2 linked regions of the Homo sapiens genome follow. The protein of the gene in region 1 interacts with the protein of each later gene in a pairwise test. Each region holds a gene or a part of one and is shown on either strand. Other genes may lie near its edges. The genes, in order: SALL1 and DCLK3.

Region 1 (7,604 bases):
AAGCTGTCTGTGTGGCTCCTTAGCATGGTCTGGATTTTCTTTGTAAGCACACACACACTCAAACACACACAGGCAGGACACACAACACCAAGCAGCCCTAGCTGCTTTCAGCTTTGGGAGCTGCTTCTTTAGGGCTCCTGTAACTTAGGTCTACAAACTTTTCTAGGTCTCACTCTGGGTAGAAGTCATACAATCTGAGGTGCTGATAAATGAGAAGTGCATGAACTAGATTTAATTTGGTATGTTTCATATTTCATTTGTCATATTTCAAAGACCATCTCAAGACATAAGAAAAAGTAATCAGAATGTTTGAAAAGGGGCTTGCCTTCTAAAAATATAACAATGTTTCTTTACGTAAAAAACAAAACAAAACAGAAAATCCAGCTACTCCTAGAAGTATGGGTTATATGTGGGGAGAAGAATGAGATTGCTGAACTCACTGCAGAAAAGGTGACTTTTAAAAGGTAACCTTGAGTTATGTCATGAACTTTCAATGCCATTTATTTCAGAACTACTCCCAAATAAAAGAACTGGAGTATGTTAGGCCCTCCTGTATGTCCAGCGTTGGGGGAGGATTACTTGTGTACTAATATTATTACAACACACTAAATCCTGAAACCCTATTACAAAATCTACCCTCTAGGCAACTTCTCCCAAACTTATTGTTCAACCATGTAAAAACAGTCATAACCTAAAACCATTACTACTGAAGAAAAAGAGGAGGGGGTGGGGAGAGGTGAGGAAAGAAGGCTGGGAGGGGGTGTTTCCTAGGGAGCCCCTAACAGTTTACTGCTTCTTTAGGACAATGTACCAGCTTTTGCGAAGAAAAAAGAAAGGAAGGAAGAGAAAGAAATCAAAAGAAGGAGAGAAAAGAGAAAGAAAGGAAACTTGATTGAGTTACTTAACTTACCTCAAAGCTCAAATAAACTAAATTGAAAAAAATAGTACTAATAAAGAATAATGGTAAGAGGTAGTGAACTCCTTTTATATTATTGCTTTATGAGAAGACTTAACTATTAAAAATTCCTGATACTGAAGGCAAAAGGCAAAGATCTTCCACGCATCATTTCTCCTCGAAGGCCGAGACTTTTTTTTTTTAAATGTAGAAAACCAGTACAAATTTACAAAACACACTATATAATGCTCTCTTATCTCTAGTTTGCTTTTTTGTGTACAAACTGTTAACCTGAACAGTTTTCCGGTGCAAAAGGTCTCACCAGAAACTTTAGGAAAGATGAGTGTGACTGCGGGAAGCAGAAGAAACTAAGCTGAGAAAACCCGGAAAAATACTCGGCGCAGCTGCTGCGGCCTTGGGTCATCTCACCTCCATCTACCCCGCGTGCTCGCTTTCGCTTGGGGTGGAAAGCGGGGTTCAGGGGCTCTTTTCAGCGGACTGAGAAATCGCAGAGGCCGTGGGTAAGGATTCAAGCTTGAGGAAACACTGGGGGCCGGGAGGAGGGCTATTGTAAAGCATTTCTTAATTAATTTCAAGTCCTCCATTTTTTTACAGGGACCCCAAGTCAGGATTCCCCTTTCCCGACATCAGGGGTAAAGGGAGCGGGGGTCCCTTCGCTTCACTGTGCCCCAGCTCTACCGAGAGGCAGGCCTCTGGGAAACGAGCCGGGGACCTGGGGGCCCGGGCGGCCGCAGCTTAGTGGGCTGAGGTGCCGATCAGGGTCACGCTTCGGAGCTCTGTCGGGGCCCAGCTCCCTCCTTCACACCCCAAAATGCCGCCTAGGGCGTGGGCATCCCGAGTGGCATCCGGAGCCGCTGAGACCCCGCCGAGATTGCTCCTTGTGCGTCCTCCCACAGCCGAGAGGCCAGCATCGTGCCGGGACGACCCGGGGACCCGAGTCCGGGCGCCGCTACACCGCCTCGGGCGCTAGGCCTGGGAGCTTTGAGGCCGGTACCGTGAAACACCTTTAGGAGCAAGGAGGGATTCCAGGTGTCCTCCCTTTGTACCCCAACTCCCTGCCCGGATCTCTTCCACTCTCTGCCATAGCCCCCACACACAAACTTTGTTCTGGACTTGTTCAGCCCCTTCGGGACCCACAGTTGTCGCCTCCATCGGAGAAAACAAGTGCCCCTGTTTCAGGGGGGATTCCACTCTGGCTGGCCACCCGCAAACCTGGAAAACTATTCTATGACTTCTTCCCTGACCCCCCTGGAAGTAGGGAGCACCACGATCCGCAGAGGGCGCATACCGACCAGAAAGATTTTGGGGGGCAGAGGGTGCAAGTGTTGTGGGAAGAGATGCGGAGATAAATTTTGCGAGCCAGACCCCGACACTTTCCCCGTCCGTTTGCACCGTCTCCGGAACAACTGGCGGCCAGCAGCACTCTCCACCCCGGCCGCAACCCCAGCGGGTCAGGCGCTGGCGCCCCGACACCAGTCCCCATCTTCTTGCAGCTCTGAACCTCCAAAGACACCCGGTTCTGCCTCGCAGGCCGAGGGGGAGTGTGCGTGGGGGCAGGGGGGCGCAGCGAACTCCCCCACGCTCGGAGTTCAGCCCAGCGCCCGAAGTAAACTTCCTTACCGCTGGCAGCAAGGCCGGGCGGCGGAGGCCGGGCCGGGTGCCCTGGGGCCGGCGCCGGGAGCGCTAGGGGCCCCGTGCGGTCAGGCCGGGGCGACCTCCACCCGCACCCACGCCTCATGGGGCTCCCGGGTCTTGGCCGCGGCTGGGATCCCCGGAAAAGCAGGGACGGAGAAGCCAGGCCGGCATGCCCGCCCTCCTTCCCCCGGGAGGACCCAACAACTCCGGAAAGATCCTGCCGGGAGATGTGCTCGCTTTCCCCGGGGCAGCGGGGGAAAGCCCAGCAAAGGCACATTGAAAATTAAAAAGAAAAAAAAAATTACGCCGAGTGGAAGAAGCAATCGGGGCCGCGGCGGCGGTGAGGTAGGGGGCGCGGGGGCCAGCCGCGTGTGAGTGGGTCCGAGTGTGCGTGAGTGTGAGTGCGTGTGTGTGTGTCCACGGCGCGGGCCGGAGCACTCACCATCTCGCCGGGGGAGCGAGGCCACTTCGGGGTCGGATTGGAAATGTTGAGGCTTCGCTTGCTTCCTCCGCGACATGCTGGCTCAAACATCAGCTGGGGCAGAATAAAAAATTACTAAAAAAAAATCTTCTCAAAATTACGGAAATCGAGCGGCGGCGGCGGCGGCGGCTCCCCCCGCCCGCCGGCCCGCCCGCCCCCTCCCCGGCTCCCCGGCCCCGGGCGCAGCGCGCATGTGTCCTGCTATAATTATGATTATCAATAATGCATTGCGATTAATCATAGAGGGGCTCTTTGAAAGGCGATTGGCACCGGGCCAGCGCTATTCAAACCCGCTCGCCTTAATCAATTAGTTCGTGATTTGCTGCAGACCCCTGTCTCTCCGCGCGCTGGCCCAATAAGCCGGCCGCGGGGCTGGCTCTGCGCGCCGCGCCGCCCGACACTGGGTTAACCCTCTTTGCGACCGCCCGGGACTCCGCGGCCCGGCCGCCGGGGGCCGGCCTCCTCTCCACTGCGGGCCCGGCGCCCCGGCAGGCGCCCCCCGCTCTCTCCCTCTCCCCTCCCTCTTCCCTCCCTCCTTCGCCCCCCCCCACAATCCCGGGCTGGGCCGACCCAAATTAGCATGCCCTCCCCGGAATTGAGCCGCCCCGGGTGGGGGGTGGGGCCGGGCGGCGAGGGCTGGGGACCCGGGCTGCCGGCGCGCTGCGAACTTCCCAACTCGGGGGCGAGGCGCGCCGGCCCGCGGGGGGAGGGAGTCCCGCGGCGGGATCAGGGGGGAGGGCGTCCCGTTTCGTGAGTGTTTCTTCGTTTCTTTAAGAGCTACCAGAAAGCAGCCCACCCCCACCCCCATTAAAAAAAAAAATAAGCGAGTGGGGAAGAGCCAGCCCCACGCCGGTCCGCCTCCCGCCCACGGCTCGGCCTCCCTCCCGCCTGGCTCGGCGCTCCTCCGCCCCGAGTTCTCCATCCCCTGGATCCCGGGCTCGCGGGGGCGCGGAGAAGAGGATCCAGGAAAGGTTTGGGAACCTGATGGGTTTGTGGCTGGGGGGAGGGGCAGTTCTCCCGCCACCCCATCCCCTCCCCGCCAGGGGCACTGATCCTCCAGCTTCTTGCTTGCTCCCTCGCTCCCTTTCTCTACCTCGGACATTCCCAGGACAATTAGGGCTGAAGTTTTCGGGAGAAGCAGCCCCGAGCCCGTGGGATAAGGGGGCGGCCCGGCTCCGCCCAGGACCCCTCCCGGACCTCCCCCCCGGCTGCCCCGGTTGGCTGCAGGGCGCGTCACTCCGCGGGGAGGCGGCGGCAGCGGTGGCGCCGCAGAGCCCCGGGCGGGCGGAGAGCGGGGACCGGCCTGGGCTCCGAGTTCAGCTCCGGCCGGGGGGAGGGGAGGGGCTGCGGCTCACACTGAGCGCAGCAGCGAGCACCGGCCTAGGGAGACACAGCCCGGGCGGACCCGGCACTGGACTGGGCCAGTCCCTGGGACCCCTGGGCACCCCGCCCTGGGGAGGGGGCCGCGCCCCAGCCTTCCGGGACGAGGTGGCGGCGCAGAGCCGGAAAGCGGGGTGGGGGGAGGGCGGTGGGGAGGTGTTCTGTCCGAGGCTGCCTGGCGGCGCCGAAGCTCGCCTCCACTTTTTGGGCACTTGCCGAGCGCGGCGCCCGAACTTTTCGCTCTATCACCATCTCCCTCAAGCTGAGATGCAACCTCCCTACCCTCGCCCCAGAGCCCAGAGCCAGGAGCCCGATCCCTCTGCCGGGCTCAGGCGCCCGCGAACCTGAGACTCGGTACGCGGCTCAGCCTAGCTCTTTCCCCTCGCGCCTCGGGGTCTCCTCGCTCCAAGGTTCTCGAAGTCTTGCGCCCGAAGGACTAAACTAAACTAAACTTCGGCTGAGTAATGGGGGAGGAGGGGGGTGCAGATACACAATCCCTGCCCTATCTCACGATCAGGAAAGGAGAGGGCTCATAAGGACGCCCCAATTCGCGAGCGCCCTTGAGTCTGGCCGGTGCCACGGTCGGTTCGCGCGAAGTGGGCACCGGTCTCCCGAGCCGACTTCGTGTACTCCGGACCTGTACTGCGCTCCGGTAGAGGACCCTTCCCTTTCTCTTAGCTTCTTAAATCTTTTCTTTTAAGGTGTAAATGTGTGTGTGTGCCGATGAATGTTTCTGTTTTTCATCTGCTGACTTTATTTTTTTTTATTGGTATAACTTCTCCCTTCTCTCTCCCTGCTCGTCCGTTTTCCACCTTTTCTCTTACTTATCTTCTGCCCTCGCTCACTCCCTAACACACACATTCACACCCTCTCCGCCTCGCTCTCCCGTTCTCGCCAGGTCCTGATGGGTACAGTAGATTTTGATAAAAAGACAAACGAAGCTATCAGTGGGGCTGATGTTGAAGAATGAAGATAATAATGTTTCCATAGGTGGTGCTTCAAATGCCATTATTTCTCACTGAATATTTAAAGAGATCCCTCGGCAAAGATGGATCTGCGCACTCCTGGGGTGTGAGCGGCTCGCATCTCCCAGACCCCGGGGAACGTGTACGGGAGCACGTGTAAATCCCGCACCCGCCTCCATCTCACAAACAGGGGTCCTCGCACACCCACCAATCCACACTGTCCCAGGTACACGAACGCGTTTGTGTGCACTTGCACACTCCTTTCCCGGAATGTGCCCGTGTTTGGAGCCGCCCGCATCCTTCTCTAACAATCTTGGCTTCTTGAAAGTCCGGGCCTCCCGGGCACCGCATGCAGCCAGGAACCTAGCGGAGCTGGCGGTCCCGCAAAGCTTTTCTCCTGGTGCGCGCCGCGTGCGCAGCAGGAAGCTCCCGGGAATAACTTCACACGTGTTTGTTACTTGGTCTACGTGTGATTTAAGATTAAGTGTAGGAAAAAAAAAAATTCCCCCCCCCCAAAAAAACACCACAACAAACAACCAAACGAAATGAACATGCGAAAAGCAGCTACGCGATGCTTAATTAAAAATGGGCGAGCAGAGACGAATAAATTGGGGGATCCAAACTTTAATAACTTTTTTCGTTTTTTTGCGTCCTCGACGGCGTAGAGGCGGGCGTTTCGATCTGCGCTTGGCGTCCCCCGCTAATTTCTTGTTTGTTTTCTTTCCCTCGGTGGCCCCGGGAAAGGAGATGGGAGGTGGAGGAGGGGGGGATGGGAGGAGGGGGATGGTCGGAATGGCGGGGAGAGGAGAATTGGTCTTTATTGTTGATGGCAATACATCAATTACGGGCCATTGTCTCGGTCCCAAGTTCCGTGGTTCGCTGGTGCGGGCGCTGCAGTGTCAGGGCGCTGGCGAGGCTCCGCGTGCCGCGATGCAAAGAAATACATCAATAAAAACAGAAGCAGAGTGGGGGTTATTCTTTATTTTTGTGCGGGTCGAAAGTAGGCGGCGAGCGGGAGTGAGGTGCCACTCCTGGAGTCCCTCCACGCGCCCTGCTCACCCCAGAGACCTGCGCGCTCTACGTGCGGTAGCACCCTCCTAACTCTGGGTGGAGGTGGGGTGGGGGGGGGACTACTGGGGAATCCGGGTAGCGAAGTTTGGACTTGCAGGTTCCGCCAGAGGGCCTGGTACTTAGGGGCTGATCCGCAATAGCGAATGGGGATAGCCCGAAGTGAGGCGGCAGCTGCGCCGGGGTCGCGACCTCACTGGCGGAGAGGAACCGCACCCGGGGGAGGCGCTTGGCGAGTTTTGCAAACTCCCATCTTGGGGGATTGATGCTCGTTCCTACTAATACGTCCCCTTAGTTTTCCCAAGTCCTAGAGTATCCTTGGTGGGTTGGCGGGGCCGAAGGTCTGTGCCCCAAGGCCGCAGGCCACAACTGGGGTCCCAGCCATGAGGTTTCCAGGCTTCTTTGCTCAACCTCTGGTCCTACGAAGGGCAACGTGGGGGGCGTCAAGGCTCGCGCATTCTGAGGCCTGGTTCTTCTACCCTCAAAAGTATCTTATTCTGGCCCGATCTGACCTCGGGTCTGGGATGGGGCCTGGGATGAGGCCTTGCCTGGGCCCCAGACCCTCTTTTCCGTTCCGTTGACGGTGCTTGGCCACCCTACCCCAGAAATGGAGGACGTCTCCAAGTGCTCTCCCTGCACCCCTGTTTCCTCAGTCCCCAGCTCAAGGCCCCGCTGGCCCCCGGCCGAGGCTAGAAGGGCAGTAGTGGAGGTTTCGTTTTCTTAAGCAAGGCAAAAAGCGGCGAAAAGGCGGCAGCGGCGCCCCGGGGGCGGGGGACGAGGCACATCGATGGTATCAACATTATTGATGGGGAAAAGTTCGGGGCAGGAGCCCGGAGATCAGGTTCCCAGTCCCTCCCCTGCCCGGAGGTGGGTGGGACAGAGCGGGTGGCCAGCTGTGTGTGTGTGTGCATGTGTGTGTGTTGGTGGGGGGGTGTTCCTGAATGCACCCGCATTAACCACCTGGGGTTTATTTGTATTTTCCTTGTCTGAAAGTTTGCGGGGGCAGAGGGAAAAGGAAGGGTTGAGGTGGCTTGTACCCTCTAGCCCTTAGGGCTCTTAACTAGGGTTGGGGTTGGGGTTGGAGTTAGGGTTGGGGGAGGGGTGCGGGGAGAACAGGAAAAAAATGACAGAAAAAAAGATCAAGTTTGGAAAGCTCTCC
Region 2 (7,271 bases), on another chromosome or scaffold:
TGGGTAGGGGCTTGGATGGGCTGCTTTAGTTGGAGGCTCTTGCTTGAAGACGTTTTCCTTTCCTTGGATCCAGGAGGGTCATTGTATCTGATCTGGCATCCTGAGTTTCCTCACCTTTTCCTTTGGTGGCCTCTTGATAATGTCTAAATTTTGCCCGTCTGCTGGTGGAGCAGAGCCCCTTTTGAAGATGCATACGTGGGGGAGTTCTTTGAAAAGAATGTTTTTGTTAACTGCTTGGTAATGTAGGTCAGAAGAGAGAAATCTAGGGAAAGTGAAAGAGTGGGAAGAAGACATCTGTACTGGGAATTGGGGAGGGGAGTTTGGCTCCATCCTCAGAGTTCTGAAGCCTCCTGGTGACCTGGGGCAAGTCACTGAACTTCTCTAGGAACCTCAGTATCTTCACCATTCATTTAATAGCAATTGTTCAGCCAGCCTCAGAGTGTTCTTTGATGGTCAAAGGGGAAATATTTTCATGGACTCATCCAGTGATTATAGGGGAAGCCCATAAAATCTTTATACAGAGACAACTGGCAATCTCTTGGGGACAGTGGTGTATGTAGAGGCATCATGATGTGGATAGCAAGTGGTAGAATAGAGATAATCACCAGATCAGTGGCTGCATGAAGGGACAGGGAAGTCTCCAGAGCTGCTTGGGCTGGTTTTGAAGGCTAAATGTTGACAGAATTTGCAAAGGGCAGGGTGTCATGTAGTGTGTAGTTATGGAGGTGAGTCCATCAGAATTGCTTTCACATTTGGGCTCTGGCCCCTCAAACCCATGTGATCCTGAGCGAGATACCCAACTACTCTGAGCCTCGGTTTCCTTATTGGTAAAATGGGCATATTCAAATTGCTCTGAGGATTTAGTGATGTAAAGCAATTACCAGATATTATTACAAATGAAAAGTATTGTTATTAAAGTTACCTTTTAGCTGAATGGATTCTGTTTGGCTGCCTGGGGCCAGTACTTTTTGAATATTGCTGGACATATGAATCATCTGGGGATCTTATTAAAATATAGATTCTGATTCAGGAGGTCTAGGGTGGGGCCTAAGATTCTGCTTTTCTCCCTAGCTCCTAAGTTCTGTAGATGTTGTTTCTTTCTTTTTTTAATTATACTTTAAGTTTTAGGGTACATGTGCACAACATGCAGGTTAGTTACATATGTATACATGTGCCATGTTGGTGTGCTGCACCCATTAACTCGTTATTTAACATTAGGTATATCTCCTAATGCTATCCCTCCCCCCTCCCCCAACCCCACAACAGGTCCCGGTGTGTGATGTTCCCCTTCCTGTGTCCATGTATTCTCATTGTTCAATTCCCACCTATGAGTGAGAAAATGCGGTGTTTGGTTTTTTGTCCTTGCGATAGTTTGCTGAGAATGAAAATGTGGCACATATACACCATGGAATACTATGTAGATGTTGTTTCTTTAGGGACCACATTTTGAGTACAAGGCCCTAGGCTACTCCCTCTTGGGTAAAGCCTGAGTCCTTTGTGGGACCTGAAGAGCACTGTGTTTGGAGAGATGATGGGGAGGGTTCAGGCCTCCTAGGCAGGTCTGGCCTGGAGCTGGGGTAGAGAGAGCTAGGAATTGCTGCTGTTGAGTAGGATGTTCCTACTGGGTAGATAATGGATCAAACCCAGCTTCCTTCAAATGCCCTAGGACCAGCCTCCTGGAGGAAATTCTTCCTGGCCAAATGGCCAAATACTGCCTGCTCTTGCATGCTGGCCCTGAGGATGTAGAGATGAATAAGCCATTGGCCCATCACTGCCCCTGCCACAGTGTGATTGCGGGGAGTGGGTGAGGAGGTGTGAGACATAGAAATGTACGATTATGATATGGTGAGATGAGCACTCTGTGGCGTTAGGGTAATGGAGAGGCAGGTAAGAGAGTTAAGAAAGGGAGGAACCCTTCCTGGTGGTAATTAAATCTGAACTGGGTTTTGATGGATAAATCACTGTGTCTGGGATTGGAGGAGGGCAGAAGAGTGTGTGGAATAGTATTCTAAGACTGAGGAACAGCATGTGCAAAAGTAGGCTGCCATGATGAAACAGCTTGGTGTGTTCAGGTCACTGAACTAAGAGTTGTTTGGAGCATGGAGTGTGATGGGGAGGACTTGATCAGGGAGCAGAGCTCAGTTCATGAAGTGTATTAGTCAGGAGGGTTTTCTAAGCTTTGCTGCAGTAACAAATCAACTTCATCATCTTGGTAGTTTAACTCAACGAAGGTTACTTCTCACACACAATGTGTGTCCCTCACAGGTCAATTGATAGCCAAGTAGACAGAGCTTCTCCCAGTTTTCAGCCTTGCCATCTGGAAAATGTGGCCACTGTAGTCACCAGTGCAGGAAGAGATAGAGGGAGAGTGTCTCTCTGGCTCGTCTGGAATGAATGCAATGTTGCTTTTGTCCACAGCCCATTGGTCAGAACTAATTGTGGGCGCAGGGGGCTGGGAAATAGGGGATGGCGGCTGGGATGGAAGAAAAAGTCAGAGAATATCAACTCTCCCACATATGTCTTGTTATGAAGCTTAAGCCTCATTCTGAGGCCACAGTTTCTCAAATAAGAGTAATATGGGAATTCCTTTAAAGGAAAAAAATTCTTGTAGATTCCTAGTGTTGCTTAAATTATTTTTATTATAGTGCAGTTCAGATATGTAGTAGTTTTACATGGGTCTAAACTCTTTATACTTAGAGCTTTCATATGACCACATAACCAAAACAAATATATAAATAAAATATCAACACAGCTACAAGTCAAATACATTTGGATTAACCTCATGAATTTAATGTTCTGGATGAAGTTATTTTTGCTAAAATGAAATCCCTATTTCTGGTTATAACAGCTGTTGTTCAGGTTCTTATGAATTTGGTGTGCAGTGTGCCATGCCACAAGGTTTTATGATGGCTCAATTTTCTCATCAGTTTCCTTTCTATACACTAAACCTGATTTGTTATTTTCTCATTGGCCTGTGATAATTAAAATAATGTTTCTTGATGCCAACTGTCTCAGTCTGTTTGTGCTGCCATAGGAAAACACCTGAGCCTGGGTAATTTGTAAAGAACAGAGATTCTTTCCCAACAGTTCTGGAGACTGGCAGGCCATGATTAGGGCACCTGCAAGCTTAATGTGTGGTGAAGGCTTATTCTCTGCTTGTTGCTACACACTCCAAAGGGGATGGACCTTGTGTCTTCACACAGTGGAAGGAACAGGAACCAACAAAGGGCCTAAGCTATTTCTTTTCAGCCCTTTTGTCAGTCACTCATCCATTCTTTAAGGTAGAGCCCTCGTGACTTAATCACTTCCCCAAAGCCCCCACCCTTCAATATCACCACAATGGGGACTAAGTTTTAACATATGAATTTTCCGGGATATTCAGACCATAGCATCAACTACAGTATAAATGCAAGAGTATATATGGTGAAATTATGTGGTAGCACTTAGTCATAACATGGCCATTCAGATGATCCAGAATATGTTTCTATTGATTCTTAAAAAAAGGTGATCATGAAAGTGAAAACAGAAAGTTAAACAAAACACAATTTTGAGAACTCATGGACCCTCCTAAGATAGGTTTGAGGATCTCCTGGAATTTGAGAAACAGCTGGAAAACTACTGGAGTGTTTAATGAAGGGGACATAGATGACCAGCTTTATGGTTCAGAGACATCACTTTTCCCAGGGTGTATGGGGTGGCTGAGGGGGAGAGAGGAAGGCTGAGACAGCAGAATCTGGGGAGGCTTGCAGGTAGCTGAGCTAAGATGTGATGAGGGCAGGTGCTCAGATGTAGTTAAGGTAATGGGAGAGAGGAAGCATGGATTTGAGAGACACGCAGGAGCTGGAATCCACAGGACTTTGAGGTTGACTGCGATGTGGGAGGGGATGGAAGGGAAGAGGAGTCAGGGATGACTCTTGGTCTTGGAGGTCGAGGGTGGTTGGTGGTACCACCGACCAGGATGAGGACCGCAGGTGTCAGATGTCCATGGCAAGAACAGAAGAGCTCAAGACCAGAACTGTGTTCTGCCGTATTCACCATCCCATCTTTTCTCACTGATGTGACTTTTCCTGAACCAGTTTCTGAGAAACTGCTACATCTTGCAGTGTCTATTTTTCTTCTATGGGACATTAATTAGTGCTCATTAAGATGATTTGAATGGCTTTATTAGCTTTTCTATTGTGCTTGCTGCTTCTGTCCTGTAGGAGCAGATTCTGGCAATATTACCTGATTAAGCACATACTTTTTTTTTGTTTTCTGTATGTTCAAAGGAGGTGAAAAAAATTGAGAAAATTGTGGATGGTTCTGAGCTAGAAGCTGTCATGCCATATAATGTGAGATTAGTTTTCTGCCTTCAGTTTTTATTTTAAGAGCACAAACGATCAACTTTCCACTCTGTGTTTTTGGATGGAGATACTGAAAATTCTTTGAGGAATGAGTAGAGGTTAAATGATCTCTAGGTAATTACATAAGAAGTAAAATGGAAACACTGCACTTTGGGGAAGTGGAGGGCAGAGAACACAAAGCCACACAAACAGACAAAAATTTCACAAACCGAAAATAAACCCCTGTGGTTTCTAGAGTAAAATCTCATGTTAATTAAAATTTTGGCATTACATATTTTAAAATGTAACTTGGTATTTACTTTTTGTATAAATAATTAACCTAATGCACCAACTGATGGAGGGAAGCAACATGAGCAGATTGCCAGAAGTGGCTTTTACTTTCCTGTTCCCACTTGAGAAACTTATGCTCTCTCCTGGTCTCAGGCATTGTTTTCATAGCAGAGCCTCTGAGGCCCTCCAGGGAGATGTGTAGCCTCCCCTGGAGGGCCTCTGAGTCTATCTGGAACTTGTGATAAAGGTTCTGTGAGCGAAGGCATACCTGTCACCCCCAGACACCACATGCCACTTGAGGATGGCACCATGTTTTTTCATCCCAGAATCCCCCCAGACTAGCAGGGCATTTCCCCTAACAGCAGTTTCCATACCCACAAGCTAGTCCAAGGCACCCTACAGGAAGTATCTTTGGGTCTCAGGGTTGGTTGGAGCAGCAGATTTCCTAGCAATAACAGCCATAACTTTTTGGGAATGTCTCTTCCAGGAATGGGTTAGACAAGGCTGGTTATTCATTTTAGTTCAGATGTTGTTTCGGTTTCAGAGGGCTACAACCAAAGTCCCCTGGAGCTTGGGTCTCTCCATTTGTGCCAGAGGCAGTGGTTCTTGCCAGATAACCCATGTGCTCCCCTTCTTTAGCAGATGCTATCAGTCCCTGTCCATGGTCCCTGAGCACACATCTTTCCTGTTCTGGTGGTTCCCACTGCAAGCCACTGCAACACTGTTGGATGACTTTCTTTGGTTGCAGGGGCATGGTTGGCCCCCATCTGGTGCACACACCCAGAAGTGCTGGGCAGCTAATGTCCTGGGAGCAGCCCTCAACCACCAATGGAAGGGAATGGATGGGTGAATATCACAGTTTCCTTGCCCCTCTGGAAGGATAACTCTGAGGCATGTTCTACTCAATCTCTCCAGAGGTTCCCAGCAGAACTGAGCCCAGGTTGGCCATAGCAGTAACCTACTCTTTCATGCCACTGTCCTACTTCACTTTTCCACTCTCCTCTAGTGCTGTCTGAGATCACCTCCCAAATCAACCCATATCCTTGCCCTAGGCTGTGCTTTTGAGAGAGACCAACCCAGGAATCTTTTGGGGTGGTTGGGGTTATGTGACCAGCTCTGGCCACTGGACTGTAGGTGGAAGTGCCATGTGTCACTTCTCATTCCAGGCAGTTGAAAGCCAGGATACCACTATTGTCTTTCTCGTCTGCTGCTGGGGCCACCTTGGAGGCCATGTGCTTTGAATGGAGGATCAGAGATGGAGAAAGCTGCTAGGTTTACACTGGGATTCATACAAGCAAGAGTCTTTTATTGTGGTAGCCCTAGAGCTTTTTGATATTTATCAGTTGGGGCACCTATCTATCTGATAAACAGTGTCACACTGTCGTTTTTTGGGTGCCACCACTGATGTCAGCCCATCCTCCACTTCTCCATCCTACACTGGTCCATAAGAACTCTTGGGATCTGCTACCCATGACCTCCTTTAATGCTTCTCATTTCCAAACTCCCCTCCTCTTCAGTAGTTTGATTAATATTAAAGTAAAATTTATGTTTCTCTATGGTTTTTAATTCATCTGGAAGTTATTTTGTTATTATTTGTAAAATAAGAATCTAAATTCATTTTATTTCCAAATTATTAACCAGTTGTTCCAATATTGAATAAGAATCATTCTAACCTTCCTGGCTAGTTTGTAATCACCTTTCATTATACGTTAAATTCTCATATAAAGTAGTATCTATTTTGGAACTATAGTTTTTTTTCTTAAATTCTTGTGCAAGTACCAAGACATTGTAATTGTAGCTCTGTAATATATTTTACTATCTTCATTACTCACTACTCATCTCCTTCCTGTCCTCCCTCAAAAATTGTATTAGTGTTTCAGTTGCACAAAACCTACAAATTACAAATGGGAAGAACTGATATGTCTATTAGGCTTTTACATTCTGGAATGGACAGTCATTTAAACGGCTTTTCTAATTCCTCTCACAGTTTTGTAGTTTTCCTTATGTTGCTCATACACATTTTTTGTTAGTTATTCCTAGCAATTTTCTATATGTTGACATATAAATGTATAAATTTTTTCATGTGTTTTTCAATTTATTGCAGTTATGTCAAAAGCTTGTATGTACATATAAGCTTCACTATACATATAGAAAATTCATAGATAGTTAATATATGTAATTAATGATTTTTTTTGCCTTATAGCTGACTACTTTCTAATTATATTTGGAAGTAAAAACATATAAAAACTATTTCATGAGAGTCCATGTACTCTAATTGCCTTTCCAGGTGGCTCAGAACAAACACATAGGTATGTCCTAGAATTGAAATAAGTTCATGGAGACAGGGAAAGATGGAGAGAAAAGATACATGAAGGAGTTGGCTATGTGGTAGCAATCATAGGTTTTCTCCATCACAGAACATGTGCAGAGTTACAGGAGCCATGAAAACAAATAGCTTGGGTTCATTGTGGGTTTTCTCTTTGAGATATAATCTCTCACACATTTAAAACTTACCTGTAAGTGTCTCTGACTGGTCCTAGACACTACTAGCACCAAATCAAAGTCTTCTCCTAGATGATTGAAACTTGTCAGTAATAATGTGTTTACGTTTTCGGTCTGGATAAGAAAAGATGATGTCAGAGGATGCCACCTCTTCAG

What was found.
Region 2: the proteins of SALL1 (region 1) and DCLK3 interact in a two-hybrid assay, tested with the Homo sapiens proteins (one study listed by IntAct).

The regions. Positions count from the first base shown.
Region 1 is NC_000016.10:51,148,173-51,155,776, forward strand, and holds the start of SALL1 (sal-like protein 1), read right to left. Parts: upstream 3,099-7,604; 5' UTR 3,070-3,098; coding exon 2,994-3,069; intron 2,426-2,993; exon of another isoform or gene 2,209-2,425; intron 1-2,208. UniProt on the Homo sapiens protein: Transcriptional repressor involved in organogenesis. Plays an essential role in ureteric bud invasion during kidney development.
Region 2 is NC_000003.12:36,754,465-36,761,735, reverse strand, and holds part of DCLK3 (serine/threonine-protein kinase DCLK3), read left to right. Parts: intron 1-7,271.